Regions from separate parts of the Homo sapiens genome. Here all the other regions are linked to region 4. Evidence: fine-mapped expression QTL. A gene starts in region 4. Each other region holds a variant in brackets. All regions are shown on one strand. Distances are between the middles of the regions.

What was found.
Region 1: its variant is fine-mapped to the expression of PPP1R12C in fibroblasts (GENCORD, PIP 0.95).
Region 2: its variant is fine-mapped to the expression of PPP1R12C in whole blood (TOPMed, PIP above 0.99).
Region 3: its variant is fine-mapped to the expression of PPP1R12C in whole blood (INTERVAL, PIP above 0.99). The same link has a PIP of 0.9 or more in cerebellum.

What each region holds. Positions count from the first base shown.
Region 1 is chr19:55,236,738-55,244,337 of GRCh38, reverse strand. PPP6R1 (protein phosphatase 6 regulatory subunit 1) reads left to right here. Exons shown (of 24, transcript NM_014931.4): 6 at 1,850-1,962; 7 at 2,059-2,172; 8 at 2,699-2,861; 9 at 2,947-3,099; 10 at 3,259-3,393; 11 at 4,038-4,102; 12 at 4,224-4,339; 13 at 4,427-4,512; 14 at 4,655-4,744; 15 at 4,836-4,933; 16 at 7,368-7,425; 17 at 7,517-7,600. It overlaps MIR6802 (microRNA 6802), which reads left to right and starts at 4,362; the gene lies at 4,362-4,426. The variant G/A (reference allele first, on the strand shown) is at 3,930.
Region 2 is chr19:55,064,739-55,071,885 of GRCh38, reverse strand. It overlaps a transcript of RDH13 not described here. Among named protein-coding and RNA genes, the nearest start is that of RDH13, 5.2 kb to the right of the region's middle. RefSeq lists a silencer at 5,528-5,728. The variant T/C (reference allele first, on the strand shown) is at 2,165.
Region 3 is chr19:55,076,231-55,083,763 of GRCh38, reverse strand. It overlaps EPS8L1 (EPS8 signaling adaptor L1), which reads right to left. Exons shown (of 20, transcript NM_133180.3): 2 at 7,303-7,356; 3 at 5,636-5,676; 4 at 4,707-4,765; 5 at 3,913-4,074; 6 at 3,486-3,635; 7 at 2,910-2,992; 8 at 2,272-2,533; 9 at 1,865-1,991; 10 at 1,584-1,672; 11 at 1,415-1,489; 12 at 1,162-1,310; 13 at 245-386; 14 at 120-148. The coding sequence starts at 7,319. Among named protein-coding and RNA genes, the nearest start is that of EPS8L1, 4.1 kb to the right of the region's middle. RefSeq lists enhancers at 2,510-3,467, 6,716-7,441. The variant C/T (reference allele first, on the strand shown) is at 4,533.
Region 4 is chr19:55,114,178-55,121,777 of GRCh38, reverse strand. It overlaps PPP1R12C (protein phosphatase 1 regulatory subunit 12C), which reads left to right and starts at 4,141. Exons shown (of 22, transcript NM_017607.4): 1 at 4,141-4,555. The coding sequence starts at 4,235. RefSeq lists enhancers at 758-847, 3,786-4,065, 5,026-5,105, 5,506-5,555, 4,910-5,745 and 1 more and silencers at 4,126-4,205, 4,396-4,475, 4,496-4,595.

The DNA of each region.
Region 1 (7,600 bases), 120 kb before region 4:
CCCAGCACAGGGCCTAGTGTAGAGTGGGTGTTTGTCAAGAGCCTCAGATATCCGAGGCCACTGGGAGCAACATGTCCTTCCCAATGCCAACTTCTGCCTCAGAGGCGCACAGGCTTACAGAGCAGAGATGGCTCTGGGCTCACCCAGGCTGGGGCCTGTCCCTGTGAGGACCCTGAGGCATGGCCCAGGGCCACACTGCCAAGCCCTGGCAGCTGCCCGTTGGGTAGACTCAGCTCTGCTTATGCTTCTCTCTTTTCTCTCTTTTGTAGCAGCTTTACTGAGATGTAAATTGCACAGCATACCACTCACCCACCGAAGCTTACGATTCAGCGCTTTTAGGGTATTCAAAGCGTTTATCATCTTGTTGAATTTAGATTATTTTTTATCACTCCAAAAAACAAGTCCTGCCTGTAATCCCAGCGCTTTGGCAGGTGAGGCTGGAGGATTGCTTGAGCCCAGGAGTTTGAGACTAGCCTGGGCAACATAGCAAGACGTTGTCGCTACAAAAAATTGAAAAATTAGCTGGCATTGGTGGTGCACACCTGTAATCCTAGCTACTCAAGAGTCTGAGACGGGAGGATCTCTTGGGCCCAGGAGTTCAGGGCTGCAGTGAGCTGTGATGGCACCACTGCGCTCAAGCCTGGGGTGATGTAGAGGCCGTGTCTTTTTTTTGAGACAGTGTCTTGCTCTGTTGCCCAGGCTGGAGTGCAGTGGCGTGATCTTGCCTCACTGTAGCCTTGACCCCCCTGGGCTCAAGCAATCCTCCTGCCTCTGCCTCATGAACAGCTGGAACTAGAGATGCACACCACCATTCTTGGCTAATTTTTTTGTATTTGTAGAGATAGAGTTTTGCTATGTTGCCCCGACTGGTCTCAAACTCCTGGGCTCAAGTGATCCTGCCACCTTGGCCTTTCTTTTTTTTTTTTTTTTTTTGAGATGGAGTCTCGCTCTGTCTAGAGTGCAGTGGCACGATCTCGGCTCACTGCAGCCTCCACCTCCCAGGTTCAAGCGATTCTCCTGCCTCAGCCTCCCGAGTAGCTGGGACTACAGGCGCCTACCACTGCGCCTGGCTAATTTTTTTATTTTTAGTAGAGATGGGGTTTCACCATGTTGGCCAGGCTGGTCTCAAACTCCTGACCTCGTGATCCACCTGCCTCGGCCTCCCAAAGTGCTGGGATTACAGGCGTGAGCCACCGCGCCCGGCCCCACCTCGGCCTTTCAGACTGCTGGGATTATAGGCATGTGCCATCACACCCAGCCGAGACCCTTTCTCCAGAAAAAATAAAAAAGATGCCCTGTGTTCATTAGCAGCTCCTCCTGATCTTCCCCTTTCTCTTCTTAGCCCCCGGCAACCACCAGACTATTCTGTCTCTGTGGATTTGTCTTTGGACATTTCATATAATTGGAATCATGTACTACGTGATCTGTGTGTGGTTTCTTTCTCTAGCATGATGTTTTTGTGGCTCATTCATGTGGTTGCATGTATCAGTTTCACTCCTTTTCCTGGCTGATTAGCACTCTCCTGTGTGGATAGACCAGCTTGGGCATATTCACTCATCAGTCAGAGCCTTCTGGGTCATTGTGGGCGGTGCTGCCAGCCCTGTATGCGGTCATGAGGGCCTTGTGTGGATGCCTCCTGTCCTGGGGAGCCTTCCGGGCTTCCTGTTCTCTCCACCATCTTCCCTCCAGCAGTTGGTGCCTCTGTGCCCTCCTCCTTCGTAACACGTGTCCCTGTGTCTGGGTGACCATTTTTCCCTGGATGGTCAGCTCATGGGAGGGGCTCCCAGCACCAGGCTGCAGAGGGCCCGGTGGCCCGACCAGGATCCTCACCTGTCTCTCCCCGTTCCAGCAACATTCCAACGCATCCCAGTCCCTGTGTGACATCATCCGCCTGAGCCGGGAGCAGATGATCCAAGTCCAGGACAGCCCAGAGCCTGACCAACTGCTGGCCACCCTGGAGAAGTGGGTGTGCGGGCAAGGCTAAGGCTGGGGGGAGCTGACTTGGGGAAGCCCTGGGCCCCTGGCCCCTCACCCTGACCCCTGCCCCTGCCCCCGCAGGCAGGAGACGATTGAGCAGCTCTTAAGCAACATGTTCGAGGGGGAGCAGAGCCAGTCTGTCATCGTCAGTGGGATCCAGGTGCTGCTGACCCTGCTGGAGCCCAGGAGGCCGAGGTGAGGGATACGGGCCACAGACCATGCATGCTGCCCATCCCCAGGGGCTCTCCGGCCCCTCAGAGGCGGGTCTCGGTGTCCACCAAGAGAAATCCCCGCCCGTGGCACCTTGCTCTGTGGCTGCCTGTGCTCCCTGCACAGTGGACAGTACGGGGCCGAGGGAGGAATCTTCTTGTCTGCTTTGACAAGTGAGGGCACTGAGGCTGAGGCCACTGCTGCAGCTTGTGTTGGGAGGGACCCCAGGCCCCCGTGCCCCTGCCTTACCACACAGGCCGCTAGCCTGTTGGGTTTGCCTTCCCGCCTCCACCCCTCACCCGTGCTCTCACAGTGGACTGCCAATGCTGCCGCCTGGCGGGCTCCCCACCCCAGCCAGGTGTTGTCTGAAGGGCCTCAGAAGAGAGCGGCGCTGGGGGCATGTGGCTCCTCGTTTTCCTCCAGACCCTGCAGACGTGGTCCTTGTGCCTACTCCTGTGTGGGCGCACAGGCCATCTAGGCTCACTCCGCCTTCGACCCTGCCCTGCTGCAGGTCCGAGTCCGTGACCGTGAACAGCTTCTTCAGCAGTGTGGATGGGCAGCTGGAGCTCCTGGCCCAGGGGGCCCTGGAAAGCACTGTGTCCAGTGTGGGCGCCTTGCACGCCCTACGCCCGCGGCTCAGCTGCTTCCACCAGCTCCTGCTGGAGCCTCCCAAGGTCAGGGGTGTGGGTTCTGGTCCTCGGGGAGGCGGGGGAAGCAGGAAGGGCAGCCCTTGGGAATCAGGCCTCCCTGTGTCTGCAGCTGGAGCCGCTACAGATGACATGGGGCATGCTGGCTCCGCCTCTGGGCAACACGCGGCTGCACGTGGTCAAGCTCCTGGCCAGTGCCCTGAGCGCCAATGATGCAGCCCTGACGCACGAGCTCCTGGCACTGGACGTGCCCAACACCATGCTGGTGCGGGGACTGGACCGGGCTGGGGGTTCAGGGGCTGGGGCGGGGACTGGACTGGGCTGAGGGTTCGGGGGCTGGGGTGGGGGCTCGGCTGGGGGCTCAGGGGTTGGGGGCTCGGCTGGGGCGGGGCCTCTCTGGTACCAATCCTGTGTCCTCCCATAGGACCTCTTCTTCCATTATGTCTTCAACAACTTCTTGCATGCCCAAGTAGAGGGATGCGTGAGCACCATGCTGAGCTTGGGGCCACCTCCTGACAGCAGCCCTGAGACGCCCATCCAAAACCCTGTTGTGAAACATGTGAGCTGGGACTCCCTGGTCCCCCTCCTTCTGGGCCCATCCCCTGTGGGCGCACCCTCTCCAGAGGCCTACCCCTCACTCCTTCCTCCCACAAGTGTTTGTTGGGTAGTGTTAGGTGCCAGCGCCCAGATGGGGTGTGGGAGGCATGGCCAGGGAGAAACGCGGATGAAACATGCAGGTGCAGGGAGCAGTGGGCTCCTGACTTGAGCTGAAGAGCTAGGGGTGGGCGGGAGCAGACCTGCGAGCAGCTGAGTGTGCATGAGTGCGCACACGTGCGTGTGTGAGCATGTGTCAGTGCAAGCGTGTGTGAGAGCATGTATGTGTGTGAGTGCACACGAGTATGTGAACATGTATGTGTGAGCATGTGTGTGTCCGTTAGTGCATGCATGTGTGTGTGTGTGTGTGTGTGTGTGTGTGTGTGTGTGTGTGTATGCACCACATATTCTTTTGTAGAAAGACCAGAGAGACTTGGGTGGATGCCAGGGTCCCAAGCCCCAGCTTGCATCCCTCCTTCCCATCCCCGTCTCTGGATGAGC[G/A]GGGGCCTGGTGAAGCATCTGCTGAGGAAGGGACCCCTGCTGCAGTGCAGAGCTCCCCACATGTGTGCAGACCACCCCTCCAGGCCATCCTGTCCCGCTCTCCCGCAGCTGCTGCAGCAGTGCCGCCTGGTGGAGCGGATCCTGACGTCCTGGGAGGAGAACGACCGTGTACAGTGAGCACCTGCTGCCCTTCATGTCTCCAGGGGCTGGGGCTGCCTGGATGGGGGGCCGGGCTGGGGCTGGGCATCCCTGGGTCCAGTCCTGGCTTGCAGCCGCGGCCTTCACTCTTGCCAGGTGTGCGGGAGGCCCTCGGAAAGGCTACATGGGTCACCTGACAAGAGTGGCCGGTGCCCTGGTGCAGAACACGGAGAAGGGGCCCAATGCAGAGCAGCTGCGGCAGCTGCTGAAGGGTGAGGGTCCCCAGGCCGGCCTGAGGGCTAGGTGGGGGGCTTGAAGCCCCGAGATGCCTCACGTCTTCACCCCTCTCACCTAAGCAGAGCTGCCCAGCGAGCAGCAGGAGCAGTGGGAAGCCTTCGTATCGGGGCCCCTGGCGGAGACCAACAAGAAGAACATGGTGGACCTGGTGAGGCCCAGCTTCTCTTCCTGCACTCCTCCTGCTGCTTCTCTCTCTTGGGCCAGTCTTAGCCTCCCACCGCCACCGATAGCTGCCTGCCCACCCTGGTCTGGGGGCTCCAGCAGGCCCTGACGCCCCCTCCTCTCCCCAGGTGAACACCCACCACCTACACTCCTCCAGTGACGATGAGGACGACCGGCTCAAGGAGTTCAACTTCCCTGAGGAGGCTGTGCTGCAGCAGGTGGGCGTGGGGCTATGTGGGGCTGTGCTGGGCTATGCTGGAGTGGGGTCCTGCCCAACTCCCTCCAGCCCTAACCTCCGCACCCCCACAGGCCTTCATGGACTTCCAGATGCAGCGCATGACCTCTGCCTTCATTGACCACTTCGGCTTCAATGATGAGGAGTTTGGGGAGCAGGAGGAGAGTGTGAAGTGAGTGTCTCCTGCGCAGGGTCACAGCCCTGTCCTGCCTCTGCAGCAGCAGGCGCGCCTACTTGTATCTGTCCCCTGCACGCACCTACATGCCCTGTGGGCTCAGCCTGCAGCTGTGGCCCCTCCTGGGCACGCGTTGGCCGTGGCCTTGTGTGTGTGTCTGCAGCCTCGTGTGTCTGCCTCCTGTTACATGAGTTCCAGCTCTGCAGTCTCTTCTCTCCGAGAGGCAGGCCATGAGGGTGGGGCACAAACATCTTCTGTGCTGGGGACACAGAGCGGGTCCCTCCCACTCCTGGAGCTAGCCTTAGGGGTTCCAGGCGGGAGGGGCTCAGGGTAGTGGGGACCAGCAGTCCTGGCGCAGGGACTGTGGGGCAGAGCTGCACCTCCATGGATGCCCTCTGGCTCAGGAGTCTGCCAGACATGGGGGTCCAGTTTTCCCCTCCACAGGCCTCGGGGTAACAAAACTTTTTTTTTCCAATTACCAATTCTGCTTGTTTTGATTTGTGGGTCAACCACATCTTAATATCAGTCACCTCTGGGTGTTATGATCATGAACTTTTCTGAGTTTCTTGCCACAAGCATCTGTTGCTTCTGGAGTCAGAAAAAAGTGGCTGGGCGGAGTGGATCACACCTGTGATCCCAGTACTTTGGGAGGCCGAGGCAGGCAGATCACCTGAGGTCAGGAGTTCGAGACTAGCCTGGCCAACATGGCGAAACCCCATCTCTACTAAAAAATACAAAAATTAGCCAGGCGTGGTGGCAGGTGCGTGTAGTCCCAGCTACTTGGGAGGCTGAGTTAGGACAATCGCTTGAACCTGGGAGGCGGAGGTTGCAGTGAGCCGAGATTGTCCCACTGCACTCCAGCCTGGGCAACAGAGCGAGACTCTGTCTTGCTCCCCACGATGAGCTCATTTACGGCCAGGGAGACTGAGGCCCCAGGACATAGCTGGTTAGTGTGTGGGAGCTGGATGGCTGCCCATGGCTGCCCCGGGGTCCCTGTACAGCACAGCGTAAGGGACACCACGATGAGGGATAGTCAGCTGTTCCTGGCTTAGTCCACAGCTGGACAGAGGTCCTCTCAGATGCAGACGTGATATCCTGTGTTGGCTGCTTCTGTGCCCAGCATGGAGACTTGCAGAGCGTTGGTCTTTGTGGGTCAGTGGCCTGTGCCGAGACCCCTGGAGAAGATGCTCAAGTGAAAACTGGGCTGGACACAGTGGCTCACATCTTAATCCCAGCACTTAGGGAGGCCGAGGCAGGAGGATCGCTTGAGTTCAGGAATTTCAGCCCAGCCTGGGCAACATTGTGAGACCATCTCTGCTTTTTTAATTAAAAAAAAAAAGAAGAAAACCCCACCCTGGCAGGAGAATGAAGGGACTGACTGGTAGATGGCATTGGGGTCACCAGCTGCCCCTTTCGGGATGAAACTGTTAGCTTTTCCTCTACCAAGAAAATTCCAGAGGGGTTAAGAAGTTAAGTGAACAAAACTAAACCCAGAAAGATTTCCGGAATGGAAAGTGGATGACTGGTTTGATCATCTCAAGGCTGAAGATGCTGCCCCGCATAGCTCCTGTAGCAGAAGCCAGGTCAGCTGAGGCTGCCAGTGCCACGGGGACATGGGCTGCCCTGCCCTAGACCCACTGTGTGCCCAGCGTGGTCTCTGCTCCGCTGCTTCTCAGTGTCTAGGAGGGACTAAGGACACTTGCCTTGGAAGGTGGTTGTGAGAATGAAGTGCGTGAGTAATGTCTGTCACATACTTAGTGTCCTTTAAGAATTAACTGTCCTTTATCCATTGATCTTTGTGGCAGAATTTTTCATGAATTTGAGACAAATGATCCCTTGAACTGTCCGTAACACGTGGGACAGAATGTGGACCCTGATCATTAGACCCTCGTGGTGAGGGAGGTGGGGCCCTGGCAGGCACAGTTTAAGTTTTGACGTGATTCTTTTTCCCATAATTTAGAATTTCAGCCGCGGACCGTAGACATCTTGAGGTTAGGGGATGTGCTTTATTGGGCTGTAGTCTCACATTCTGCTTGTGCCTGGCTGGTGTGAGTGTCAGCCTCCTACAGATGCCCCAAGGATGGGGACAAGGGCATGGATCTGAATCCCTCTCTGGCACCTGTCCTTGGAAGAGCCTGAGGAGAGTCGCTTAACATTTCCGAGCCCCATTTTCTCACTTCTAGAGCCAAGGGAAACAGCCTACCTCAATGAGTGGTTTTAAGGATTTAAAGTGATCATATGTGAGATGTTGATATTCATGTATGCGTTGCCCCTTAGGACCAGTGGTTCGGGTTGTGTGTGAATTTGCAGATACCAAATCTGCAAGTAATGAGGGTCAGCTCTGTGTTGAGTGAAGAAAGAAATGTGGCCTGTCCTGTGCTGCCCCCACCCCCAGGTGGACCTTCTCACCATGCCTTGCCTTCTCTCCTAGCGCACCTTTTGACAAGACAGCCAACATCACCTTCTCCCTCAATGCTGACGATGAGAACGTGAGTACTGCCCTGTCCCCTGGTTGTGGCGGGTGGAGGGGTGTGGGGCTGTGGGCAGTGTGGCCCATCCTCCCACCCCTGTGCCCTGCAGCCCAACGCCAACCTACTTGAGATATGCTACAAGGACCGCATCCAGCAGTTTGATGATGATGAGGAAGAGGAGGACGAGGAAGAG
Region 2 (7,147 bases), 50 kb after region 4:
CCCTTACGCTTCTCTTTCTTTGGCTTCTGCAATTCTGTGTTCTCATCACATTCATGCCACAAGTATTTTCTGTGCTTGACTGTACCTGAGTTGGGGTTTGAGGGAAGGAGCAGACCCCTTGCCCCATTGACAGGAGAAAACAGAGGCTCAGAGAGGGAAGTCAGTAGCCTAAGGTTACAGTGGCCCTGGGCTGTGACACAGATGCAGATCTGACTGGGCCTGGGCTCATTTCTTCATGAACAAGGGGAGAAAACTATCTCATAGAAGCATTTGGTATGGGTCCGAGGCCTTTGGGTCTGAGGGAGGAGGGGCTGGGGTCTGGACTCTTGGGTCTGAGGGAGGAGGGGCTGGGGGCCTGGACTCCTGGGTCTGAGGGAGGAGGGGCTATCTCATTGCTTTGGGGGTGGCGCAGGCGGCCCTCCAGGCCATGGTCTGGAGCAGCAGGTGAGACCGAAACCCGAGCCTCCACCCAAGTCCCAAGTCCCAGGGCCCAGGGCCTCTTTCCTCCTTCTCTGGCCGCAAAGGAGGCCCCTCCCTCTCTGTAACCCACAGCAAATGCCTCCCAAATACCAGTCAAAGTGTCCACCCCTGCACAGTCTGACTCAGCCAGTCCAGGGCGGAGGCAGTAAAGCCCTGTCTTGGCAAGTCACCAGGGAAATCCATCACCGAAGCACCTCTCTCCCCCCTCGGCCTGGCTATTCTGTCATTGGCACCTGTTCTTGGGTGAGTGACAGGGCTCTGTGGTCAGGGTTTGCCTCTGTCCCAGTCTGGGATAGCTGTCTTGGGGGGCTGGCCTTTCTTCCCTCTCACCTGGGATGTCCCAGGAACGGAACAGAATTCTCCCCTGGGGCTTGAAGAGCTCACCCCCCATCTCCTCCGTTATCCCCACCCCCACACCACCCAACACACATCCTCTAGTCTGTAGGATTTGCTGACAAATTCCTATGACAGCCGGATGTGGTGCCTCACACCTGTTACCCAGCATTTTGGGAGGCCATCACTTGAGATCAGGAGTTCGAGACCAGCTTAGCCAACATGGTGAAACCCCATCTCTACAAAAGTAGCTGGGTGTGGTGGCGTGCGCTTGTAGTCCCAGCTACTAGGGAGACTGAGGCAGGAGAATCACTTGAACCCGGGAGGCAGAGGTTGCAGCGAGCCATTGCGCCATGCACTCCAGGCTGGGTGACTGACTGAGATTCTGACTCAAAAAAAAAAAAAAATCCTATGACAAGGAGAAAGGTCAGATTCCCTGGCAATGGGAGCTGAGGCATGTTCTTGAGAAGGAGGGAGGTTATAAATTAGATGGGGCTGGGTCTCAGAGAGATATAGCTACTTACATATTAAATAATGAGGCTGAGTGTGGCGTCTCACACCTATAGTCCCAGTACTTTGGGAAGCAGAGGCAGGAGGATCCCTTGAGCCTAGGAGTTTGAAACCAGCCTGGGCAACATAGGGAGATTCCATCCCTACCAAAAAAAAAATTAAAAATTAGCCAGGCATAGTGGCCTGCATCTGTGGTCCTAGCTGCTTGGGAGGCTGAGGTGGGAGGATTGCTTGAACCTGGGAGGTCAAGGTACAGTGAGCCACGATTGCACCACTGCACTCCAGCCTGGGTGACAGAGCAAGACCTTGTCTCAAAAAAAGTAATTAATTTATTTATTCAATACGTAGCTCCTGAGACAAAATGTGTGCCGTACTCTAGACCCTGCTGGTGTGCACAATTCATGGGGGATATGTGCGCTAATGGAAGTGTGGCACAGGGCAAGGGTGTCCCCAGAGAAAGCCCTAATCCAGCTTTATGGGTGGTTGTATGAGGCACAGAAGCCTTTCCTGGTTAAGGGATAAATGGATGGGGTTTCAAAGGATGAATAGGAGTTTGCCAAGGACAATGAAGCAAAGATTGACATTCTAAGCATTGGGAGTGTCCTATGCAAAATCCCAAAGTGATGTAGTAGCAAATACTTAAGCACCTACAGTGTGCCAAGCATGTTTCATGTGCTGGAGATACAGAGGAGGAGGAGACAGATGAAACCCCAGCCCTTGTGATATTGTCATCCTAGTAGGTGTGGTGGGGAGATAAACAAGTAGACACCTGCATGAATAAGACTTTCAGATTGTGGTAAACCCTGTGGAGGAAACGAAACAGGTGAAGGAACGGCGTGAC[T/C]AGGAGCAGGCAGGTGCGGCTGCTTCAGGTAGGGTGGTCAGGGAAGGAGGCGGCATCTGAGCTTTGACCTCAATTTCGAGAATGAGCCAGGAATGCAGAGAGGATTTCAGGCAGAGGAAACCTTAGGGAGGCTGGCGGGTTAAATCTGCAGGGGTGTGGCTGGCCGGAGGAAGTGAGGTGTGAGACAGTCACGTTGATGGTGACAGCAGCAGTGACCGTAGCAGCCTAGAGGTGGCCGAATGCTTACTCTAATGGGCTGGCCCATCCCTGAGTGTCTAGAGTTCCCAGCCCGCTTAAGGAAGGAAGGAAAACACAGGCAGCTCTAAGTGTACGACGAGGGAGGTCTCATCGGCGGTGAGGAAGCCCAGGCGGGTCCCCTTCCCAGCTGAAAGGGGTTCGGGTAGGTTTTTCCTGGGCGTTCCTCTGAGAACAGCCAGCCCTGGTGAGAGTGCGGGGAGAGGCGCTTATGACACAGGGAGGGTGGGTCTGGGAACCAGCCTGGCAGGAGGAGGAGGGAGACTGCCGGTGGCCGGGAGCTGTTTGTTCTCTGGGAGGGATCGTGGCGGGGTGGTTTGTGCAGCCCTTTCCTGAAACCGGAGGAGCCTGGCTCCTTCCCAGGTCTCTGGGGGATGGGTCGGGGCGGGGGGTGGTGACGGGGATAGGACCCCAGACAGACTTGAGTTTGGATCCTGGGTTGGAGCCGGTGACTTCACTCTCAGCTCCCTGAACATCAGGGCCTGCCTTTCTTCCCTCCCTTCCCCTCCCCTCCCCTCCCCTTCCTTCCTTCCTTCCTTCCTTCCTTCCTTCCTTCCTTCCTTCCTTCCCTTCCTTTCCCTTCCCTCCCTCCCTTTATTCTTTTCTTTTTTTCTTTTCTTTTCTTTCTTTCTTGACAGAGTCTTGCTCTGTCGCCCAGGCTGGAGTGCAGTGGCGCGATCTCGGCTCACTGCAAGCTCCGCCTCCCGGGTTCACGCCATTCTCCTGCCTCAGCCTCCCGAGTAGCTGGGACTACAGGCACCCGCCACCGTGCCTGGCTAATTTTTTTGTATTTTTAATAGAGACGGGGTTTCACTGTGTTAGCCAGGATGGTCTCGATCTCCTGACCTCGTGATCTGCATGCCTCGGCCTCCCAAAGTGCTGGGATTACAGGCCTGAGCCACAGTGCCCGGCCTCCTCTTTCTTTTTTTGAGACAGAATCTCACTCTGTCACCCAGGCTGGAGTGCAGAGGTGTGGTCTCGGCTCACTGCAACTTCCGCCTCCCAGGCTCAAGCGATTCTCCTGCCTCAGCCTTCCGAGTAGCTGGGACTACAGGCGCGTGCCACCATGCCCAGCTAATTTTTTGGTACTTGTAGTAGAGACAGGGTTTCACCATGTTGGCCAGGCTGGTTTCAAACCCCTAATCTCCAGTGATCTGCCTGCCTTGGCCTCTCAAAGTGCTGGGATTAAAGGCGTGAGCTACCGTGCCAGGCCGTGGAGTAGCTAAACTTATCTTACACTGCTGAGGTCTCTCAAGATGTGTGTAGGGAGAGAGAGTTGGGGGGAGAGAGAGAGACAAAGGAAAAGAGGAAGAGAGAGACAGGGAGAAAGAGAGGAAGAAAGAGAAAGAGAGAAACAGGAAGAGTGAGAGGAGAAAGAGAGGAAGGGGGAGAGAAAGAGAGATGGGGGAGAAAGAGAGAGAGAGAAGGAGACACAGGAGGGGGAGAGAAAGAGGGAGAGAGCAATGAGAGAGATATGAGACAGAGAAGAGAGAGAGAGGAGACACGGAGGAGGGGGACAGAAAGAGGGAGACAGAGAGATGAGAGAGAGAAAAGACACAGATGAGGGGGAGAGAAAGAGGGAGAGAGAGATGAGAGAGAGATTGATAGCACCCAGCTAATCAATCAGTGGCTTTAGTGCCATGAGCTGGAAGGGAGGAATGGATACTGGGGAACAGTTGGTTGACTTTCCCTGGTGGGACAGCCCCTCTTTCTAGAACTACCTTTCCTATGTCCCCTGTGCTTCTCTCCAGTCCATACTCTACATCTCAGCCAGAAAAGAAGAAATTCTAAAACATGTATCTGCCCGTGACATGACCCTCCTTGGCTCAACACTCTTCAGCGGTACCCAGCGCCCTCTGAGTCAACGCCAAGCTTCCTACCATGGCATTGGAGCCGCGCTCTGGGTCCTTTTACTGATGGCTCCCGCCTCAGCCCTTCCACCCCCTCCCATACCCTGCATGCCAGCCCAGGCAGCCCTCCCTCCTCCCACAATATCTCTCATATGCATTCCTGTCCCATGCCTTCTGCTTAAGCTGTTCCCACAGCCCGGAGTCTCCTCCCTGGCTGAGGGAAATCTTGCCGGCTCACATGGCCGTGATCCCCATCATTTCCTGCAGAAAGCTTGCCCAGCTCTCCGACACGGGGACCTTCTGCCCCTCCTGAGCCCTGAGTCCCCTCCATCTTAACTGGGAGGTCACCTGTTTGCGTGGTGTCTGCTCAGCTTGCAGGCAAGGCCACCAACACCCTCCTTTCCTGTCTTTCCTTCCTACCATCCTCTCCTGTCCACCCTCTGCCTCTCCCTCCCTTCTTCTCTTCTTTCCTTCTAGTTACTGAGCCATGCATGTGTTGCATGCAGCAAGGATGAATAAAATAAAATAAACCTACAGCAATCATTCCAGTTACTATGGCCATATAACAAATTATTCTAAAACTCAGTGGCTTCAGACAAGGATCATATCTATTTTACTCAAAAACCTACCATCTGCACAGGCCTTGGTGGAGGCAGCTTATCTGTGTGCCCTTTGGTGATGGCTGGGGCTGTCAAGAAGCTGGGGCAGTGCTTGGGCTGCAAAGACTCAAATGGCTGGAGTCTGGGACCACTGGAGCTCCTTGCCCCCCTTTGCTTATCTCTACACAGCCACAGGGTCGCTAAACTTACCTTACACTGCTGAGGCCTCTTAAGATGTGTGTAGGGAAAGAGAGTTGGGGGGAGAGGGAGAGAGAGAACAGAGAGAGAGAGACACACACAAGAAGAGAGAGAGGAAGAAAGAAGGAGAGAGAGGAAGAGGAAGGGAGAGGAAGAGAGAGAGAAAGAGAAAGAGGGAGAGAGAGAGGAGAGAAAGAGACAAGAAGAGAGGAAGAAAAAAGAGGAAGAGAGGGATAGAGGAAGACAGAAGGAGGGAGAGGGAGAGAGGAAGAGAGAGGAAAGAGAAAGGAAGGGAAAGAGAGATGTGAGAGAGAGGGAGAGAGAGAGAGAAAAGAGGACAGAGGAAGAGAGAGAGGAAGAGAGAGGGAGAGAGAGGGAGAGAAGACAGAGAGGGAGAGAGGAAGAGAAAAGGAGACAGAGAGAGGAGAGATAGAGAAGAACGAGAAAGGAGAGACAGAATGTGAATGAGAATTGGGTGCCATAAACCCTCTGATGGGGAAAGCAAAGGGCATTGTGGGAGAATCCTCTCAGCACCTGGGACAGCACCCAGTGCTGATCAGGAACATGTTAACAACCAGGAAAATGGTAAAGGCGTGGACAGCCCACCTGGAGTCCAAACAGATGTTCTAACTCCCTTGGGTGTGTCTGGGAATCAGGTAGGAGATCCTCAGAGGAGGAATATGCATGCATTGTTCTCTTTATAATAACCATATTAACAGCCAGCAATGTTCTGGCACTTACTATGGATTAAGTCCTTGTTATGAATGACTTCATGCCATCCTTCCAAATTCAATGACAGGTAGCTGGGCGCAGTGGCTCACGCTTTGTAATCCCAGCACTTTGGGAGGCTGAGGCAGGTGGATCACCTGAAGCCTGGAGTTCAAAACCAGCCTGGCCAACATGGTGAAACCCCGTCTCTACTAAAAATACAAAAATCAGCCAGGTGTGGCGGCGAGCGCCTGTAATCCCAGCTACTCATGAGGCTGAGGCAGGAGAATCGCTTGAACCCAGGAGGCAGAGGTTGCAGTGAGCTGAGATTGCATCACTGCGCTCCAGCCTGGGCATCGGAGAGAGACTCTCAAACAGGAGCTGGCGAACTGTGGCGCACTGCTTATTTTTATAAATAAAGTTTTATGGGAACACAGCTGTGCTCACTTGTTTTCACATCATCTGTGGCTGCTTCCCAGCTCCTCTGGCAGAGGAGGTGCAACAGCCACTGTGTGGATCACAAAGCTGAAATTATTTACTATCTGGCTGTTTGTAGAAAAAGTTTGCTGATCTCTGTCCTGGAAGTCAATGATATTAGGATTTCAGTTTACAGAAAAGGAGAAAAAGACAGGGAAAAACAGTGTTGTTTTTTTTTCAAGGTTGAGAAAATGAACATCTGAACCAATTGCCCATGTTATTAAATGTAAACATTTATTATTATTATTTTTGAGATGGGGTCTTGCTCTGTCACCCAGCCTGGGGTGCAGTGGCACAATCACAGCTCATCATAGCCTTGACCTCCTGGGCTCAAGCAGACCTCCCACCTCAGCCTCCCAAGTAGCTGAGGGTGCAGATGCGTGCCACCAAACCTGCTAATTTTTGTATTTTTTGTAGAGATAAGGTTTTGCCGTGTTGTCCAGGCCGCTCTCAAACTCCTGGGCTCATACTATTCTCCACTTTGGCCTCCCAAAGTGCTGGGATTACAGGCATGAGCCACCATGCCCAGTCTAAAATTTTTCTTTATTTTTAGTTTGGTAAACTATGCATAAAGTAAAATGTACCATCTTAACCATTTTAAGTGTACAATTCAGTGATGTTAAGTATATTCACATTGTTGTGCAACCATCACCACCGTCCACCTTCAGGTCTTTTTTTTATTTTGCAAAACAAACTCTGTATCTATTAAAAAACAGCTTCCCGGCCGGGTGCGGTGGCTCATGCCTGTAATCCCAGCACTTTGGGTGGCCGAGGCAGGTGGATCACCTGAGGTCAGGAGTTTGAGACCAACCTGGCCAACATGGTGAAACCCCGTCTCTACTAAAAATACAAAAATTAGCCGGGTGTGGTGACACGTGCCTGTAGCCCCAGCTACT
Region 3 (7,533 bases), 38 kb after region 4:
AGAAGAGCCAGGAAGACAGAAGGAAAAACACAGAAAAAAAGGGGGCGGAGTCAGCATCGGGAGCCCCCGGGACGCACCCCTCCTTGACCCCCTTGCCCTGCCCTGGGGCGGACACTCACCCATTGACAGCGACCTGGGGGGCGCTTTGCTGTAGGAAGTAAGACAGTCGGGTCAGGCGGGGCCAGGCGGACCGGCCGCGCCCCCGGACTTCCCAGCCTCGGCCCTGCTGTGTCGCTTGGGTCACCTGCCGGCGCCTCCGCTCGTGCTGTAGCTGTTTCTCAACTGGGTCCTCCCAGGCGCGGCTCTGCGGGTCAGTGACCGGCGGCTCCCAGCCGCTGAAGAACTCGGGTCTGTATGGGGGTCCCTCCTCCGGGGACAGCTCCAGCCTGCGGCCAGGGACAGGGCCAAGAGCTCAGGGATCCTGATACAGCCCCCAACTTCGTTCCTGCATTAACTTCACTAAGTTTTCCCCTAAAGCTCGCTGTATTCCAACGATTCTAGCCCCGCCACTTTTCACCAAGTCCTGCCGGTAGCTCTAAGCCCAACTCAACAGCAATTTATATTTCTAGACCGGGCACGGTGGCTCACGCCTGTAATCCCAGCATTTTGGGAGGCCAAGATGGGAGGATCGCTTGAGGCCAGGAGTTCCAGACCAGCCTGGGCAAAATATTGAGACCCCATCCATCTCTCTCTCTGGAAAAAAATTGCCTTATCCAGCCTCTAAATCTCACCTGATTCCAAATCAGGTTTTCCGTAAGGTCGGTTTCAGGTTCTGACCCTTTCCCTGCGGAACTGCCAGCCCGCAGTGCACAGACTCTGTCCCATCACCAAAGTTATAGACCAAACCTTCCAGAAGCCCCGCCCCTTCGCGTAGCCCCGCCCCTGCCCCGTAGCCCCTAGCCCCTCTATTCCTTTAAGCCCCCCTTTTCTTTCAATCCGATTGGTCTGGTGGTCTTAAATCTTTCCTTCACGTTAATTCCTGGCCTTTCCTCCAATTGAATCTTGGCATCTGTCCTAAGCCCCGCCCCAACACAACTAAGCCACGCCTCTAACCCCTCCCTACTCTCCTAGTCCTATTTTCCAATCATCATGCCACCCACCTCCCAGCGCCTTATGCTCCTCCAATCACCATGCCCCCTGCCTCCCAGCCCCGCCCCTCACCCGGGGCGGGTCCACGAGTCCCCCAGCGAGGTCCAGAGCTCGTTTTCACGTGGAGTGACGTTGTCCCGCAGCAGCGCCACGGCATCCGATGTCAGATGCGGCCGCCGCACACTGCTCGCGAACTCCGGCCCCCCCGACGTGTTCACAATCTGTCAGGGGAGCAGGAGGGGCAGGCTGTGCCGCCACACCTTCTACAAGTCGAACCCGATTCCTCCCGCTGCAGGGGGGCCCGAGGGCCTGGGGCGGGTCTCACCATCTGCAGAGGCCCGAAAAGGAAGTGCAACAGCTCCGGAGAGGAGGGGTCGGCGATGTTGCCGCGCAGCCGGGCCTGGGGCGTGGGGAGGGAGGTGGTTGGCGTGGGTGCGGGGACGGGACAGGTTCGTCGTGCCCGCGCCCCGGCCCAGGGGCGGGCGCGTCCTCACCAGCAGGCTGAAGGCGTACTTGATCTTCTGCAGCACGTCGGTGTACTCGGCCTCCGAGGGCGGCTTGGCCCGCAGCGTCAGCAAGCCCTCTGAGGGGAGCAGACGGGCGCGGCGATGGGGACGCGGGGCCAGCACCAGGCAGGCAGAGAGAGGTGGACACCCGGTTAAGATGGCGGTGAGGTCAGCCCTGGCAAGTGGCGGGAGGGGAGAGCCTGGGGAGAGCGGGGACATTTGGAAGAGATCGGGAGGGGGTTCAGATCCCACGCCAGGGTGCCCCTTACCCCCAGCCGCCCGGCGCCGGCTCCTGCGGCCGCGTTCCCGGTGCTCCAGCACCCTGGCCGCCTCCGCCGACTTCTGCAGCCTCGATACAAAGCTCTCTACGTCGTCGAACACGTGGTTCAGGATGTCCTAGGGGACAGAGGAGGGGGACGCTCAGGGCTCCCGAGTTCCAAAACCATCCCCGTCGAAGCCCTGAACCTGAGCACCTATACACTTCCCCAGATCAGGCCACGCCCCAAACACCTGGCCACGCCCCACAACCAAGCCCCGCCCCCGACCCAGCCCCTCTTCCATAACGCAGAAGTCTGACCAGAGAACGCCCGTCCCGCAGCCGGCCCCGCCCTTCCACGCCCTAGCCCCGCCTCCAGTCGCCTGGCCCTGCCCCCAGACCCCTTCCTTAGCGGCTCACCACTTCCCGCTCCGCCTGCAGAACCGCCAGGTCAGGACCCCGGGGACCCAGGTCCGGGGAGGCCGAGTCAGCGTTGCTCGAGGTCCCCACCGGCTCAGGCCTCTGCGCCTCCTCTGCCTCGGGAATGGGCTTCGCCTGGGGTCGTCCGCGGCCCGCGCCCCGCTCTACGGTGCTGATCACTGCGCGGACTGACGGGCGGCGCTGCAGGGGCGGGGTCTCAGCGGCGGGCGAGCGGTCGCGCTGCAACTCCTCCTGCGTGGCCCTGCGGAGGGCGACGGGGACACCAAGACTGGGTCCACTGAGGGGTCCAGGGAGGGGGAAATCCAGGGCGCAGAACGAGACACACAGGCTCAAAAGGCTCAAAGGGAGTGAACAAGTTCAACGAGGTAGGGAGAAATCCGATATACGGAGGGATAGCACCTCTCTAGAGTGAAACTGAGGGCCTGGACAGGGAACAGAGAAAAGAAGCAGAGTTCTGGAGAAGGGGTCAGCTCGTCTGGGAGGTACAGACAAGACTCGACTAGGGTGTGCTTGACTCCATGCAAAACTCTTGTTCTGTTCCAGGCTGGTGTTGTAGACTGAGGCACAAGGAGGGGAAACCGGCTTCCCAGAGACCCTGCCAACTTCTTCCCTCTCACCTGAGCGCCGCCGCCCTGCGCTCCCCGCGGCCCGAGCGGTAATTGTGCAGAGCCCCCTGGATGTCCTCTCGGATCAGCTCCGCCTGCCAATCACACCGTCAGGCCACGCCTCCCCACGCCGCACCCACTTCCTACCCGGGCCTCGCCCCTGGCCGATTTTTCAGCTCAGTCCCAGCCCACGTGCGGCTACCGTTCACACCTGTGAACCCACGCACGTCCACGCCCCGAACTCACCCCTCGCCCTACACCTGTCCCTGCCCTAAGCCACGACCCCGCCCATGGAGACCCAGTCCGGGTGGTTCCTCGCCCCCACCTCGTCCTGGCTGCTCCCCCAGATCCTTCTTGGCCATGTTCTGTTCATGTCCTCATCCCACCTTCATGTTCTATCTTGACCCTGGGTCCAATCTCAAACCCCACTGCCTTCCAGAACTTCCTTCCCAGGTCCCCTGCCCTTCCTTGCTCTGATCCCGCCTTAGCCCCAGGCCCCGCCCCACCTAGAGGCCCCACCCATTTCCGCCCCGGCTCCAGGCTCCGCCCAGTTCCAGCTCCACCCCCAGAGCCAGCCCATCTGCTCACCCCGAGGCGCAGGCCCTGGAAGAAGTGCACGTCGGGCTGCGCGCGCTCGGGTTCCTGGCACACGAGCAGCAGCAACGAGCGGCTCCTGCCGGGTGGCATCACCGCGTCACAGCGCACGATGGCGCCCAGTGGGTACGACTCCAGCTCCTCCTGCCGGGTGGGATGGCGGGGTAAACTGAGGCCCCGAAATGATGGTACTACTAAATGGCGACGGGAGTGTGGGCCAGCAGGTCAGGGCAACCTCAGGCGGTTAGGGGGTTAGGGATAACAGCCCTGTTTAATAGATGAGGCTATTAAGGCTCAAGAAGGGGGCTGGGGTCCCTCGCCAGAGTTCCCAGAGGAAGGACGTGCAGGAGCCAAGATTCACACCCAGACCCCCTGAAGTCCCTGCCCCAGACACTCCTCCCACCCACGTGCCCCCCGGCACCTTGGAGGCCGGGTCGAGCAGCGTGACATGGTCGGGAGACACTCGCAGCAGCATCTCCTGTGCCCAGACTCGGCCCTGGCTATCCATGACGGCCAACTTCCTGGAGGCATCCTCCACGGTATGCACGCCATCGTCCTCACCCAGGCAGAACGTCACCAGGTGCTGGTACGGACCATGGAGAAAGCAGTGAGGCCCAAGATGATGCCAGGTGGGCTCAGAATCCCCCAGAATAATCAGACTTTCAGCCTGAGACTAACCACACCTCCTCCAGGAAGCCTTCCTTGATCACCTGTTCCACAAATCAGCTCCTCCTCCCAGTGCCCTTTGTTTCCCTTTCATCAGAGTGACTAGCACCTGAGTCTGGCTTCTCACAGACTGGAGGCTCCTTGCGGGCAGGGAAGGAGTCTGGATTATAGCTCTCTCCTTCTAAATGCCTCCTCGGGTCTCCTGCCATGCCCCCTGCCACCTCCATTAGAGCACCAGGCGCCTCTGTGGATTCCTCTGGACCTTGTCTACCCCTTCCTCATGCAGGGCTGTGTCTTGATTTGCCTCCGTGGTCCCACTGTCCAGCACAACAGCTGGCCTGGAGGAAAGGCTGGCAGATTAAGTGGACCCGAGGC[C/T]CCTGGCTTCATATCCATGACTGAGGTGAGGCAACGGAGGTCCATTTTATGGATGGGCAAACTGACTTTCCACATGCTTCCTGCTTGGGGGCCTAGCTGCTTTCAAAAGCCCTATCTCCTGAGGCCACCTTTGCCCCAGAAGATGTCCTGGGGGAACACAGACCCCAGACTCACATTGACTGGGTACTGGGATACATCAGCCATAACAACTGTGGAGTAACGCTTCCTCTGCTCTGCCAGGGGAGAAAGAGAATGAGCCTGGGAGTCCAGGCCCAGCCCCTCCTCCATCAGACCCAGGAGTCCAGGCCCCCAGCCCCTCCTCCCTCAAACCTAGGAGTCCAGCCCCCCAGCCCCTCTTCCCTCTGACCCAGGAGTCCAGGCCCCCAGCCCCTCCTCCCTCAAACCCAGGAGTCCAGGCCCCCAGCCCCTCTTCCCTCTGACCCAGGAGTCCAGCCCCCCAGCCCCTCCTCCCTCTGACCCAGGAGTCCAGACCCCCAGCCCCTCTTCCCTCTGACCCAGGAGTCCAGGCCCCCAGCCCCTCTTCCCTCTGACCCAGGAGTCCAGGCCCCCAGCCCCTCTTCCCTCTGACCCAGGAGTCCAGCCCCCCAGCCCCTCTTCCCTCTGACTCAGGAGTCCAGACCCCCAGCCCCTCTTCCCTCTGACCCAGGAGTCCAGCCCCCCAGCCCCTCTTCCCTCTGACCCAGGAGTCCAGCCCCCCAGCCCCTCTTCCCTCTGACCCAGGAGTCCAGCCCCCCAGCCCCTCTTCCCTCTGACCCAGGAGTCCAGCCCCCCAGCCCCTCTTCCCTCTGACCCAGGAGTCCAGCCCCCCAGCCCCTCTTCCCTCTGACCCAGGAGTCCAGGCCCCCAGCACCTCTTCCCTCTGACTCAGGAGTCCAGGCCCCCAGCCCCTCCTCCCTCAAACCTAGGAGTCCAGCCCCCCAGCCCCTCTTCCCTCTGACCCAGGAGTCCAGACCCCCAGCACCTCTTCCCTCTGACTCAGGAGTCCAGACCCCCAGCCCCTCCTCCTCCAAGACCCTGGATGCCAGGTCCTGTTTCTTTAGACCCAGTTCTATGGGCCTGGGGCTCCCTTGCCCCCCGCTCACCATAGATAGACTTGGCGCTTGGCTTTGGGGCAGCTTCTGGGCTGGTGAAGAAAAGAGGAATGAGAGAGACTGTGGGACTGGGGGCAGATCCTGTGGAAATGCCAAGCAGGGCAGCAAGGGCTTCATGACGAAGGTAATGGGGAGCGATGGAAGGGTTATTATTATTATTATTATTATTATTATTATTATTATTATTGAGCAGGAGAGCTCAGAGCCAGAGCTGGACTTTAAGAAGACAGGTAGGCTGGGCGCGGTGGCTCACGCCTGTAATCCCAGCACTTTGGGAGGCAGAGGTGGGCGGATCACAAAGTCAAGAGATTGAGACCATCTTGGCCAACATGGTGAAACCCTGTCTCTACTAAAAATACAAAAATTAGCTGGGTGTGGTGGTGGGCGCCTGTAGTGCCAGCTACGTGGGAGGCTGAGGCAGGAGAATCACTTGAACCTGGGAGGCGGAGGTTGCAGTGAGTCCAGATCGTGCCACTGCACTCCAGCCTGGCAGCAGAGTGAGACTCCATCTCAAAAAAAAAAAAAAAAAAAAAAAGACAGGTCAGGTCAGGCGGTGGTGCTGGGTGGTAGGGGAGTGTGATCTCTACCATGGCATAGTCCGGGATTCAAACCCTCTGTCTACTGCCTCCTTGCCATAAGACCTTCAGAAGAGGATTTAATCTCTCCTGCCTCAGTTTTTCTTTCTGTAACGTAGTAACCATCTGGTAGGGCTGTTGGGCAAATTCAGTCAGATGATGCAGGTGAAGTATTTTGAAGCCTCAATAACTGTTATTATCATTCTTAAGATGCTGCCAGGGCTTAGCACACAGAAGTTGCTCAATAAATGGGAATGGTTATAATAGCATTAGTGGTATCTGAAGTAGACAGGGAATTATCTGCTTCCCCTCCCACTCCCATGGGCCAGGTGCTTCCCAACCACATCCTTCTCTGTCTCCTCCCGTCCTCAATTTCTTCCTAAGATTACCTTTCCTAAGAATTCTTGAATCCCCACTTGCATGCACATAACAGAAGCTCAGCGATCAGGTGGCGTCAGGGGAACTGAAAAACCCTTTTTCCCAAACTCCTGTTCCTCATCCTGCTCCTGCCAGTCTGATGTCACCACAATTTGATTACCTCTGGGCCAGAGAGCTCACTACCTACCATGCAGGTATTTTGACTCATCTCTCATTGTTTTTCTCCCTGCTTACTCTGGGGGACTTGAGTCTTCATTATAAACAGCCCTGATTTTCTAGCAAAGGGTTAATATTTACTAACAACATAACAATCGCAATAGCGACTCCTATGAGTTGAGCACCTGCTGTCAGTGAGGTGGTCAGCTAAGTCCTGTAATGCACTATCCCTCCAATTTTTCAACATTGTCCCTGTGTCACAGAGGAGGGGCTGAGGCTCCAGGAGGTGATGTCCTCTGACCAGGGTTACATCAGCACTGAGTGTGAGGGCCGAACTGGAGCTCAGGCCTGTCTGCTCTGCAGTGGGGGCCCCTAACCCCAGGCTGGGCAGGGAGGAGAGAGGCTCTGGCTTCCTCCTGAGTGTCGGGGCTTGGGCCAGAGTCTGGGCCGCCGCAAACAGTCTGGGCTGCCGCAAGCGGGTGTGGGTGAGGAGGCGAGGGGAGGCGGGAGGCGTGCTGGGGCTGGGACCTGGGGTCCGGGGGCGCTTACCCTGTGGCGGTGCTCATGGTGCTGAGTGGTAGCTCCTGCCCACCTGGAGGTGCCCTGGGAGCCAGCAAACATGTGAAGGCCTGGCCAGTAGGAGCCTCTAATTCCTACCCCAGCCTCCTCCCTCAATGCAGGCATCCAGGCCCCAGCCCCTCCTCCCTCAGGCCCAGGAGTCCAGGCCCCCAGCCCCTCCTCCCTCAGACCCAGAAGTCCAGGCCCCAGTCCCTCTTCCCT
Region 4 (7,600 bases):
GAATCAACAGGGGCTGGCTGTGGTCATCCCACTAGTGCCTCTTCATGTTCCCGCAGCTGGACCCAGATCCCTCCTGATTATAATGGCAGTGCTAAACTAACAGTGTCATTGAGGAGTTATGTTTGGCTGATAGTAAGAGACAGCTCCCCAAATAACAATAGTTTTGGTGAATTGGAGGTTTGTTTTCTCATATGTAACCTAAAAGACAAGAGGTAGGCAGTCCAGGGAAGGAAAGGCAGATCCCAACTGCCATCAGGAACTGAGGCTTCTAAGGCCAGGTGCAGTGGCTCATGCCTGTAATCCCAGCACTTTGGGAGGCCAAGGCGGGCAGATCATGAGGTCAGGAGTTTGAGACTATCCTGGCCAACATGGTGAAACCCCGTCTCTACTAAAAATACAAGAATTAGCCAGGCGTGGTGGCGTGCACCTGTAGTCCCAAGAGAATCGCTTGAACCCAAGAGGTGGAGGTTGCAGTGAGCTGAGATCATGCCGCTGCACTCCAGCCTGGGTGACAGAGCGAGACTCCATCTCAAAAAAAAAAAAAAAAAAAAGAAATTCCAGTTCTGGATTTGACAGTCCTCAGATTGAACCTTGTCTTGGCCAATTTCTAGCTCTGTGACTGGGGCTAGTCTCTTAGTCTCTGCCTCCTGGAGTTGATGAGATGATGTACATAAAATATCTGATAGGCATGTGATGTTGGCTGTGAGCATCTTCATATGCCACTCAAGAACATCATCTTTTGCTCTTGTCTTCCTGTGGTAAAGGTTTTGTTTTCACTTCTAGGGTCTGCTCTTTGCTCTCAATGGTAACAGTGGAATGTTGGTGCTTAACCTTGGAACTGCAGGCCCTCCTCACTGGTGTAAATAACCTCAGAAAGATAAGAAGAAAATGTTCCCACTTCTTCTGTAACAGCAGAAAAATAGATATTAGTCTGCACCATAAAGATGGTTCAGATAAGCAGGTGAAGTTAGAACATCCACAAAAGTATAAAATTGACTCTTCTGTCCTGTGTGGAGAGGGGTAAGAGTATTATAAGCCCATTCTGATTTCTGTTATTTTACTCTTTTTTGATTGCGCCAGTGCAATCCAGCCTGGGCGATGACAAGAGTGAAACTCCATCTCAAAACAAACAAACAAACAAACAAAAACAAACCATAAACACAAACTCATAAACAACATACATCCAGCCACAGACATGATTGCAAATACACACAATTATACATAAAGGCACAGAATACATACAGAACCAGAGCTACACGGTAACACCCTGAAGACCGACTTCTTGTTTTCCTGGGGGAAGGAGGTTGGTGTGTAAGTATGTGGAAAGTGTGGGGTTCAGGGACCACACCTAAGAGCCACCAGAACTATCCCTTTCTATAGAAACAGGCTTCGTGGCGGATGAAGACCCCATCTTGGGGTTCCACCAGATATTCCTACTAAAGAACATCAGCTGGGTGTGGTGGCTCATGCCTGTAATCCCAGCACTTTGGGAAGCTGAGGCGGGTGGATCACTTGAGGTCAGGAGATCGAGACCAGCCTGGCCAACATGGTGAAACCTTGTCTCTACTAAAAATACAAAAATTAGCCAGGCGTGGAGCACGCCTGTAATCCCAGCTACTTGGGAGGCTGAGGTAGGAGAATCACTTGAACCTGGGAGGCGGAGGTTGCAGTGAGCCGAGATCACATCACTGCACTCCAGCCTGGGCGACACAGTGAGACTCCGTCTCAAAAACAAAACAAAACCAAACAAAACAAAACATCAGCGATGCAATGATGCTTGGGTTTGCACCAATGATATGCAGGCTTGCTCTGCACAACTTCAGCTGACCTCCTCTCCACCGGGCCCTCACGCTGCCTCCTCTTCCCTCCTCTTTCCAGAACTATTGCCACTCCTCCAGATATGATGCACAAATGAGCAGGGTCGCAGTGGGAGTGGGCGCAGTGCGCTGATGCCACGGAGGTGTTGTGCATGACGTCTGGACACTAGACTAGCTGCATGTAATGGGAAAAGTTTGTGTTGTACCAGCGCATGCCTTGGAAAGACTTAAGTAATGCAAAAGGTTGTCCTTTAAAAAAAAAAAAAATCTGGCCGGTCGCGGCGGCTCACGCCTGTAATCCCAGCATTTTGGGAGGCCGAGGCAGTCGGATCACGAGGTCAGGAATTCGAGACCAGCCTGGCCAACATGGTGAAACCCCGTCTCTACTAAAAAACAAAAATTAGCCGGGCGTGGTGGAGCACGCCTGTAGTCCCAGCTACTCAGGAGGCTGAGGCAGGAGAATCGCTTGAACCCGGGAGGCAGAGCTTGCAGTGAGCCGACATCGCGCCACTGCACTCCAGCCTGGGCGACAGAGCAAGCCTCCGTCTCAAAAACAACAACAACAACAAAAAAAAACAAAACTACTGACAAGTTGCTCTACTTAACCCAAAGAAAGTGAAGGAGAAAGCGGCTGCCTCACCGCCTAGACATTGAGTCGCCGGATGTTTCAATGCCTCATGATACAATAAAACCACAAAAATTTTCGTAACAGCAGCAGCAACAACAACAACAAAAGAGAAAGAGAGAGGGAAAGAAACAGGCCTCGTGGGATGCGCAGTTTACGTCTCCGCGCAAACCCAAGGACTTCAGAGTGGGTGGGAAACTCCCACAGCGCTTGGGAAACAGTCTGTAGTCTCTGTCCCGATTTTGGCCCTTTTCTGTATGATTTTTATGGGACTCTTCCTGTCACAAAGTGCCAGCCACCTTCCCAATCTTGAGTTGGGCGCGGGATCCGTAAGGTGAAGATCAAGGTGTGCTCATCGCTTGGGCCCGCTGAAAGGTGATTCGCCCCCCACCTGCTGGAACTCCTTGCCCGGGACCACCAATCCCAGCATGCCTTGAGAGCGCGCGAGGGCCTGGGCGGTTCCCAGGAGGTCCGGGTGGGCGCAGGAGAAGCGCGGGCCAGTGAAAGCTCTGAGAGCCCTGTCCCTGTGGACACTGTGTCTTGGGTTCCTTTACTCGGTGTGGCTCAGGGATTACCATTAGGGAGTGGAGTGTGGATTTCTCTTGCCCCGAGCCCTAAATGCCTTGGGGCCCTGCCTTGCACCCCACTGTGCTTTTAGGGGTGTGGCCCTGTGGGCTACATTTCCCAGCGTGCCCTAGGATCGTGGTCCTGACCTTTTCACCGCAAATTTCATTTCCCAGCATGCCCTGCGAGGTCACCCAGGGAAGCTTGGAAGTGGACTGTCTTTCATGGCTTCTAGGTTGCGGACTCAGTTTCCCATGGTGCCCTGGTGAACCCATTCATTCATTCATTCCAAAAATATTTGCGATCAGGTTCTCTCAGGTTCTGTTCTAAGAACCGAGGACAAGTAGTGCACAGAAGACAAAAGATCCCGCTCTCGTGGAGCTTATTTCTAGTTAAGGGGTCAGGAAAAAAACCAAAATAAATAAAACCCAGCTGGGCATGGTGGCTTACGCTCGTCATCCCAGCAGGATTACAGGCCGAGGCGGGCGGATCATGAGGTCAAGAGATCAAGACCATCATGGCCAACATGGTGAAATCCCGTCTCTACTAAAAATATAAAAATTAGCAGGGCGGGGTGGCGCGCGCCTGTTATCCCAGCTACTCTGGGGACTGAGCCAGAATTGCTTGAACCTGGGAAGCGGAGGTTGCAGCGAGCCGATATCGCGCCACTGAACTCCAGCGTGGCGACAGAGCGAGACTCCGTCTCAAAACAAAGAAAACAAAATAAAACAACAATAACAAAACAACTCTGCCTCTCCCCGCACTCCCTCCCACGCGGCTGTCCAGTCGAATTCCTAACTGCCCCGGGGCAGTCTGCTATTCATCCCCTTTACCCGGTGCTACACACTTCCTAGTATGCCGTGGGGCACCCCTCCGGCCTGTAGACTCCATTTCCCAGCATTCCCCGGAGGAGGCCCTCATCTGGCGATTTCCACTGGGCGCCTCGGAGCTGCGGACTTCCCAGTGTGCATCGGGGCACAGCGACTCCTGGAAGTGGCCAAGGGCCACTTCTGCTAATGGACTCCATTTCCCAGCGCTCCCCGCGACCTGCCCAGCACACCCTGGGGCAGCGCCGTGACGTCAGCACGCCGGGCGGGGACCGGGAGATCCTTGGGGCGGTGGGGGGCCAGCGGCAGTTCCCGGCGGCCCCCGGGGCGGGCGGGCGGGCGGGTGGTGGCGGCGGTTGGGGCTCGGCGCTCGCTCGCTCGCTGGGCGGGCGGGCGGTGCGATGTCCGGAGAGGATGGCCCGGCGGCTGGCCCGGGGGCGGCGGCGGCGGCTGCCCGGGAGCGGCGACGGGAGCAGCTGCGGCAGTGGGGGGCGCGGGCGGGCGCCGAGCCTGGCCCCGGAGAGCGCCGCGCCCGCACCGTCCGCTTCGAGCGCGCCGCCGAGTTCCTGGCGGCCTGTGCGGGCGGCGACCTGGACGAGGCGCGTCTGATGCTGCGCGCCGCCGACCCTGGCCCCGGCGCCGAGCTCGACCCCGCCGCGCCGCCGCCCGCCCGCGCCGTGCTGGACTCCACCAACGCCGACGGTATCAGCGCCCTGCACCAGGTCAGCGCCCCCCGCCCGGCGTCTCCCGGGGCCAGGTCCACCCTCTGCTGCGCCACCTGGGGCATCCTCCTTCCCCGTTGCCAGTCTCGATCCGCCCCGTCGTTCCTGGCCCTGGGCTTTGCCACCCTATGCTGACACCCCGTCCCAGTCCCCCTTACCATTCCCCTTCGACCACCCCACTTCCGAATTGGAGCCGCTTCAACTGGCCCTGGGCTTAGCCACTCTGTGCTGACCACTCTGCCCCAGGCCTCCTTACCATTCCCCTTCGACCTACTCTCTTCCGCATTGGAGTCGCTTTAACTGGCCCTGGCTTTGGCAGCCTGTGCTGACCCATGCAGTCCTCCTTACCATCCCTCCCTCGACTTCCCCTCTTCCGATGTTGAGCCCCTCCAGCCGGTCCTGGACTTTGTCTCCTTCCCTGCCCTGCCCTCTCCTGAACCTGAGCCAGCTCCCATAGCTCAGTCTGGTCTATCTGCCTGGCCCTGGCCATTGTCACTTTGCGCTGCCCTCCTCTCGCCCCCGAGTGCCCTTGCTGTGCCGCCGGAACTCTGCCCTCTAACGCTGCCGTCTCTCTCCTGAGTCCGGACCACTTTGAGCTCTACTGGCTTCTGCGCCGCCTCTGGCCCACTGTTTCCCCTTCCCAGGCAGGTCCTGCTTTCTCTGACCTGCATTCTCTCCCCTGGGCCTGTGCCGCTTTCTGTCTGCAGCTTGTGGCCTGGGTCACCTCTACGGCTGGCCCAGATCCTTCCCTGCCGCCTCCTTCAGGTTCCGTCTTCCTCCACTCCCTCTTCCCCTTGCTCTCTGCTGTGTTGCTGCCCAAGGATGCTCTTTCCGGAGCACTTCCTTCTCGGCGCTGCACCACGTGATGTCCTCTGAGCGGATCCTCCCCGTGTCTGGGTCCTCTCCGGGCATCTCTCCTCCCTCACCCAACCCCATGCCGTCTTCACTCGCTGGGTTCCCTTTTCCTTCTCCTTCTGGGGCCTGTGCCATCTCTCGTTTCTTAGGATGGCCTTCTCCGACGGATGTCTCCCTTGCGTCCCGCCTCCCCTTCTTGTAGGCCTGCATCATCACCGTTTTTCTGGACAACCCCAAAGTACCCCGTCTCCCTGGCTTTAGCCACCTCTCCATCCTCTTGCTTTCTTTGCCTGGACACCCCGTTCTCCTGTGGATTCGGGTCACCTCTCACTCCTTTCATTTGGGCAGCTCCCCTACCCCCCTTACCTCTCTAGTCTGTGCTAGCTCTTCCAGCCCCCTGTCATGGCATCTTCCAGGGGTCCGAGAGCTCAGCTAGTCTTCTTCCTCCAACCCGGGCCCCTATGTCCACTTCAGGACAGCATGTTTGCTGCCTCCAGGGATCCTGTGTCCCCGAGCTGGGACCACCTTATATTCCCAGGGCCGGTTAATGTGGCTCTGGTTCTGGGTACTTTTATCTGTCCCCTCCACCCCACAGTGGGGCCACTAGGGACAGGATTGGTGACAGAAAAGCCCCATCCTTAGGCCTCCTCCTTCCTAGTCTCCTGATATTGGGTCTAACCCCCACCTCCTGTTAGGCAGATTCCTTATCTGGTGACACACCCCCATTTCCTGGAGCCATCTCTCTCCTTGCCAGAACCTCTAAGGTTTGCTTACGATGGAGCCAGAGAGGATCCTGGGAGGGAGAGCTTGGCAGGGGGTGGGAGGGAAGGGGGGGATGCGTGACCTGCCCGGTTCTCAGTGGCCACCCTGCGCTACCCTCTCCCAGAACCTGAGCTGCTCTGACGCGGCCGTCTGGTGCGTTTCACTGATCCTGGTGCTGCAGCTTCCTTACACTTCCCAAGAGGAGAAGCAGTTTGGAAAAACAAAATCAGAATAAGTTGGTCCTGAGTTCTAACTTTGGCTCTTCACCTTTCTAGTCCCCAATTTATATTGTTCCTCCGTGCGTCAGTTTTACCTGTGAGATAAGGCCAGTAGCCAGCCCCGTCCTGGCAGGGCTGTGGTGAGGAGGGGGGTGTCCGTGTGGAAAACTCCCTTTGTGAGAATGGTGCGTCCTAGGTGTTCACCAGGTCGTGGCCGCCTCTACTCCCTTTCTCTTTCTCCATCCTTCTTTCCTTAAAGAGTCCCCAGTGCTATCTGGGACATATTCCTCCGCCCAGAGCAGGGTCCCGCTTCCCTAAGGCCCTGCTCTGGGCTTCTGGGTTTGAGTCCTTGGCAAGCCCAGGAGAGGCGCTCAGGCTTCCCTGTCCCCCTTCCTCGTCCACCATCTCATGCCCCTGGCTCTCCTGCCCCTTCCCTACAGGGGTTCCTGGCTCTGCTCTTCAGACTGAGCCCCGTTCCCCTGCATCCCCGTTCCCCTGCATCCCCCTTCCCCTGCATCCCCCAGAGGCCCCAGGCCACCTACTTGGCCTGGACCCCACGAGAGGCCACCCCAGCCCTGTCTACCAGGCTGCCTTTTGGGTGGATTCTCCTCCAACTGTGGGGTGACTGCTTGGCAAACTCACTCTTCGGGGTATCCCAGGAGGCCTGGAGCATTGGGGTGGGCTGGGGTTCAGAGAGGAGGGATTCCCTTCTCAGGTTACGTGGCCAAGAAGCAGGGGAGCTGGGTTTGGGTCAGGTCTGGGTGTGGGGTGACCAGCTTATGCTGTTTGCCCAGGACAGCCTAGTTTTAGCACTGAAACCCTCAGTCCTAGGAAAACAGGGATGGTTGGTCACTGTCTCTGGGTGACTCTTGATTCCCGGCCAGTTTCTCCACCTGGGGCTGTGTTTCTCGTCCTGCATCCTTCTCCAGGCAGGTCCCCAAGCATCGCCCCCCTGCTGTGGCTGTTCCCAAGTTCTTAGGGTACCCCACGTGGGTTTATCAACCACTTGGTGAGGCTGGTACCCTGCCCCCATTCCTGCACCCCAATTGCCTTAGTGGCTAGGGGGTTGGGGGCTAGAGTAGGAGGGGCTGGAGCCAGGATTCTTAGGGCTGAACAGAGAAGAGCTGGGGGCCTGGGCTCCTGGGTTTGAGAGAGGAGGGGCTGGGGCCTGGACTCCTGGGTCCGAGGGAGGAGGGGCTGGGGCCTGGAC